Linked DNA regions of Homo sapiens: region 1 is linked to region 2. A link means that fine-mapping ties the variant in region 2 to the plasma level of a protein whose gene starts in the linked region. Region 2 holds a variant in brackets. A gene starts in the other region. All regions are shown on their reverse strands.

Region 1 (3,031 bases), not on the chromosome of region 2:
TAGAATCTGAAAGTCTGATATTCTAGAAATTCCAGGGGCCTGTAGTTCTAGAATGGCTGAATCCTTCCCATAAAGATGATGACTTTCCACACATGGGGAGAGACCACGCTTACAACAGGTCCCATCCTTCACTGGGTGACCTGAGTGAGGTCAGTCCCTCCTGTCTTGGGACCTCCTCATTAATTAAGCCAAAATAGACTCTAGATAATTGCTTGGGGCCCTCTGGGGTTCTGAGACATTGGAAGCCAGCCTCAAATACCCAAAGCCTTGGGTCATCTCAGTGATCATCTCCAGCCTCTGGGATGCAGAATCCAGATTTCAAGCTCTAGAACCCAGAAATAAGACTACAGGACCAGAATAGAGACCCTGGGTTCCCAGACTCTAAATTCAGACTCTAGAGTCAAGATTCTAGCAATCTCAGAATCGTGAAAGCCAGGTCCCTGTCTCTCAATTCAGCCTTTTAAAAATTTATTTACTTATTTATTTATTTATTTAGATTTTTCATAGAGATGAGGTATTGCTGTGTTGCCCAGGCTGGTCTCAAACCCTTCAGTTCCAGCAATCCTCCTACCTCAGCCTCCCAAAGGCATGAGTCACTGGGCCCAGCCACAGTCCAGGTTTTCAATGCAAAAACAGATTTGAAACTCCAGACTGTATGTTCCAAAGTCTACTCCTGAAAGCTCAGAGGCTAGATCCACCCTGTAGAATCCAGACCCCAAGCCTGGCATGGTGTCTCACGCCTGTAATCCCAGCACTTTAGGAGGCTGAGTCAGGTGGATCACTTGAGATGAGGAGTTCGACACCAGCCTGGCCAACATGGTGAAACCCTGTCTCTACTAAAAATATAAAAATTAGCTGGGCGTGGTGGTGGTCGCCTGTAATCCCAGCTACTCAGGAGGCTGAGGCAGGAGAATCTATTGAGCCCAGGAAGTGGAGGTTGCAGTGATCTGAGATCACGCTATTGCACTCCAGCCTGGGTGACAAGAGCGAAACTTCATCTCAGAAAAAAAAAAAAAAAGAATCCAGACCCCACAATTCAAAATCCCAAATCTACCATTTGTAGTCTAGGCCCCAGGCTTCTCATAGCAGGTGCAAAGGTTTCCAGCCTCGATTGCCAGATTCCAAACACCAGATTCCAGGCTCCTATTGTGGGTTCTAGATTCGAATGCCCCGGGATCCAGAATCAAGGTTCACGATCTGTCACTCAAAGGCCCGACTCCAGGATCCAGATTCCAGACCCCCAGCCCAAGAACTCAGACTTTGAAATCCATATTCCAGACTGCAGGTCATTAATCTCCAACTCAAGATCCTCAAATCCAGAATCCAAGACCCAGATCCAGAACCAGATCCGGATCCAGAACCCGGGATCCAGAACTCTGCCCCAAGCCCAAGAACAGGGACTTTAGGATCCAGTTTCCACACTCCAGACCCCAAATTCCAGACTCTGTCTTTTGATCTCCTCCTAATTTCTGTTTTTGTCCTCCTGTCCCCTCCCCCTTGAGGAACTGCTCCTGGTGGAGAATTCCTCTTTGTGGACTCAGACAACAGCTTCAACCTAATAAATGCTCATTAGGCCAAGTCTCCCACCCCACCAGCAACCAAGGCGTCTCTGCCTGTAAACCTGACTCTCAGCCACCTCCCACCCCACCCTACACCACCACACCCCCAGACCCAGCTGGGACTGGGAGCTTATAAATTCAGGCATCCTGGTACCTGCTCCCTTCTGGCACCCAAGCTGCCCTAGATGCTGCTGGAGGATCTGGAGGAGGTGAGAGCTTTGAGACAAGACTGAGGGAGGGGCAAAGGGGAGATTCACTGTGCCCTGGTTTCAAGGGGAAACGTTGACCACGCTTGGAGAACTGAGTGTCAAGGGCATGGGTAGATCCACGTGTCCTTTACCAATGCCCCAAATTGAACCTGAACCAAGAAAATGTCCTGGAATGGCCAGAAGGAGCTGCAGTGGTGGGGAGGGAGGGGGATGGAGTGGATCAGGAGGACGTCCCTGAAGTACTTGTATCAGAGCCAAGAACGTGGTCAGGAGTGATCACGGGTTCAAGTCAGTTCAGCACAACCTCCCGGAGGCCTCCTGTGTACCAGGCCCCAGGTGGGGCAGTGCTGAGGTCACAGAAAGAACCTGACCTGAGCCCCATCTTCAAGACCCCCAGATGGAGAAAAGAACAGGCCAGACCTCAGCAAGTATGGGGCATCTGCGCTGTAATGGAGACAGAATGGGTGCTGTGGGATTCAGGGGAGACACCTGTTAGGTGTTGGGGCCTCCCAGAAGAGGTGGGGGCAGAGTGTCAGAGGACAAAGATGAATTTGGAAGATATGGGGAAGAAGGATTTCAATTCACCCTCAAAGCTTCCTGAGGCCTCCCGTGGGTCGGGCCCTGCAGTACTGGAGACCCAGAGTGGAGTCAGACCAGCTCCTCGGGGAGCTGCCAGTCTCGTAGGGGAGGCAGACACCACTGAGGGTCAGGGGAGGTCAGAGAAGGCCTCAAGGAGGAAGCGGGGCTGGAAGGGAATGGCGTTGGATATGCGGTGGGAGGAATAGCCTAAGCATGAAATGGCAGGAGGGAAAATGGCAGCACTGGCTGCGTCTAGGACAAGGTCATGGGAGACCCAGGGAGAGGGGCTGGAAGGGAAGAAGCCACTTTTGTCCTTGAAAGTGAGGCTGGAGCCAGGCAACTCATGCCTGTAATCCCAGCACTTTGGGAGGCTGAGGCGGGTGGATCACTAGAGGTCAGGAGTTCAAGACCAGCCTGGCCAACATGGTGAAACTCCGTCTCTACTAAAATTACAAAAATTAGCTGGGCGTGGTGGCACACACCTGTAATCCCAATTGCTTGGGAGGCTGAGGCAGGAGAATCTCTTGAACCCAGAAGGCAGAGGTTACAGTGAGCGGAGATCACGCCACTCCACTCCAACCTGGGCTACAGAGCCAGACTCCGTCTCAAAAAAAAAAAAAAAAAAGAAAAAAAAAGAAAGAAAGTGAATTTGAAGAGCTGGACTTTATCCTGGTGGTGCCAAGG
Region 2 (2,500 bases):
GCTCTTTCAGCAACACTGAGCGCCAGTTGCCTTTCTTGTACAATATCTCTGATTTCCAGTATCTTTGTGAAATGAGACATTTGGATTCACCCTGTGCAAAGAAGGCTTCCTGAGTTGTCTGTCTCTGTCAAGACAGGCACATCACTGCATTTTAGATCTGGCAGAGATCTTTGATTTAATTGAATCCGGCCATCTTTGTTGACAGATAAGGAAACCGAGGCTCAGTATCATTACATGAATCACCCAAAGTCAAATTGCTGGCAAGTGACATAGCTGAATGAGGGCCATGTTCTTCTTACCATGCACTTTCCTTTCATTTTGGGCTGAATCAAGATCCTCAAAGTGACTCCACCTGTCAGATAGACTTGAGTCTCCAGTACTCACCTTAAATCTCATAAGGCTGGCTGACTTTGGTTTAAACCTCATTACTCCTCTTCTTACAAATATTCTTAATGGTCAAAATAACAAACACCCATGTGTAGGAAGAATGATCTGCAGAAAAGGCCCAGGAAATTTGAGAACATGAAATCAAATTGGCTGATATAAAGCTTTCATTCCTATGAATATAGTTGACCTTCCAGGGGAAAGAAAGTGAGTTATCCCCTCTTGTGATATTTGAGAAGCCAAACATGAGCTTTCTGCCCAAGCACGGGGCTGCAACATGGCAGCATTTACACAGGTTGTTTCACATTTAGGGATGGGCTGTGTTCCAGAAATTTACTTGTATGTCACCGGGTTGAAACTGGGACTGCATTTTCCTGGTCAAATCAATTTCAGTCATCTCCAGTGGAAGCCATGTCTCCAAACACTCTTTCTCTAAGCCTTTGCTGGTGGCCCCTCCTTTTTTCCCCAGTTAGTTGGTAGACCCTCTTCTCAAGAATTATTCTTACCTATTTATTTATACCATTCTTGAAAATATTTACTATTGTATAAATGAATGAAGTTTCTTTAACCCCACCCGGGCTAATTAAGATTTTTAAAGAGAAAATTGACTTTACAATTGATTAAATTTCAGATTGAGAAACAAAGGGAAGATGGTAGTCATGTCTGGGGGTTAGTGGTTTTGGGTCTACCTCTGAGGCAAGCTGATAGTAGCTGATAGCTTCCTTCTCTCCATAATTCTGGGATTTCTAAGTATACCAGGTACTAACTTCCCTCAGTGTTGCTCATGAGCTTTGCATCCTAAGTGGAGCAGCTGTTGGACTTGGTATGACAGGCAGAAATGGCTTCATTTTAAATATATGATGCATATTTGAGATATAATATTGGGCGTCAGGGGCTATTTCTATCTGCTACATTCCCAGTATGTTAAGCAGGCATGGCTTTAATACTGAATCTCTCTGTTCCTCTCAAAACTGAATAATTCTTCTTCTTCTGAATATAAAAGTCATGCATGTTTATAAGAGAAAATTTGAAAATTACAGAAAGGCACATTCACATAAAGGAACGTAAAAAGTACTTATAACGTCGTCAGCCACTAC[G/A]AACAGCTTGTTACATTTCCTCCTCATCCTCTTCTTCTTTCTGAGGATATATTTTTACAGGTAAACTTTTCATGATTATAGTTTTTTCAAGCTTCATTTTAAACCCTAATGTATTTTGAACACTCTCCCATTATGCTATTAAATATATTTTACAACTGATTTTAATGATAATATTAAATATAAATATGTGTGTGTATATATATATACACACACACACACACACACACACACACACACACACACACACACATCTCTATAATTTATTGAACCAGGTCACTTAATGTTGGATATTCACATTGCATTCAAGTTTTCAATAATGCAAATAATGTCGCATTGGGCATCCTAATATGAAAAATCTTTGTACACATTCCCTTATTATTGCCTTAGGATGAATTTCTAGAAGTAGATGTTCTAGGTCTATGAGGTTTTTAGAAGTTTTGAATATATATTGCCTGCTTGCTCTGTATAAAAATTATACCCAGTATAATCCTACCAGTAGTATCTGACATCTATTTTTCGATTGAGCTGCTAAATGTAGAGGTCAATCCTAGAAGCGGTCGTCTTGGTTAAGGATGTTTTCTCAAAAGTCTTGTGTCTAATTGGGCTAGCAAATATAAAGTAAGAGTTTATCTGTCACCACAAAACTGAGCTTAGACCTCAAAGCTAATTGCTTCTTAAGATGAGAATTTATTTCCCTTCTACCTCTCCGACATGTTTGGGATATATGTATATACATATCAGTTTAGCTAGAGCAAAATTCAAATATCAAAGCACTGGAAAAACCCATAACAGAAACACAAGTCAAATAACCAAAAATCTTTCCAAGACTCTGCCTGGTGGTATTAAAAAAAAAAGAAAAAGAAAAAGAAAAAAATATATATATTTATTGTTACCTTTTTGAGACTATTTGCAAAATACAGTTTTGTTTTGTTTCTCTAAGATCGAGAAAAGCTAAGCTAATTAGTACTCAAGCACTAAAAAATAAGTATCACGGGAATGGTTTGATTGCTTTTTTTTTT

Which allele goes with the higher level. Alleles are on the strand shown, and positions count from the first base shown. The strength of an association depends on the size of the effect and on how common the allele is.
In carriers of allele G in region 2, the plasma level of the protein whose gene starts at base 1,721 in region 1 tends to be lower than with A alone (weak association).

What was found. A credible set is the group of variants that fine-mapping cannot tell apart. PIP is the chance, under the fine-mapping model, that this variant and not a neighbour inherited with it causes the effect. The UK Biobank Pharma Proteomics Project read protein levels with antibody pairs (Olink). The fine-mapping took linkage between variants from a reference panel, not from the people measured, so its PIPs are less certain.
Region 1: KLK15 starts here. The variant in region 2 is the best candidate, but not a certain one, in a credible set for the plasma level of the KLK15 protein (UK Biobank, PIP 0.80).

Annotation. Positions count from the first base shown.
Region 1 is chr19:50,832,264-50,835,294 of GRCh38, reverse strand. KLK15 (kallikrein related peptidase 15) reads left to right here and starts at 1,721. Exons shown (of 6, transcript NM_017509.4): 1 at 1,721-1,768. The region is part of intron 2 of LOC105372441 (a long non-coding RNA gene); the gene reads right to left.
Region 2 is chr4:23,895,168-23,897,667 of GRCh38, reverse strand. It overlaps a transcript of PPARGC1A not described here. Among named protein-coding and RNA genes, the nearest start is that of PPARGC1A, 6.4 kb to the right of the region's middle. The variant G/A (reference allele first, on the strand shown) is at 1,482.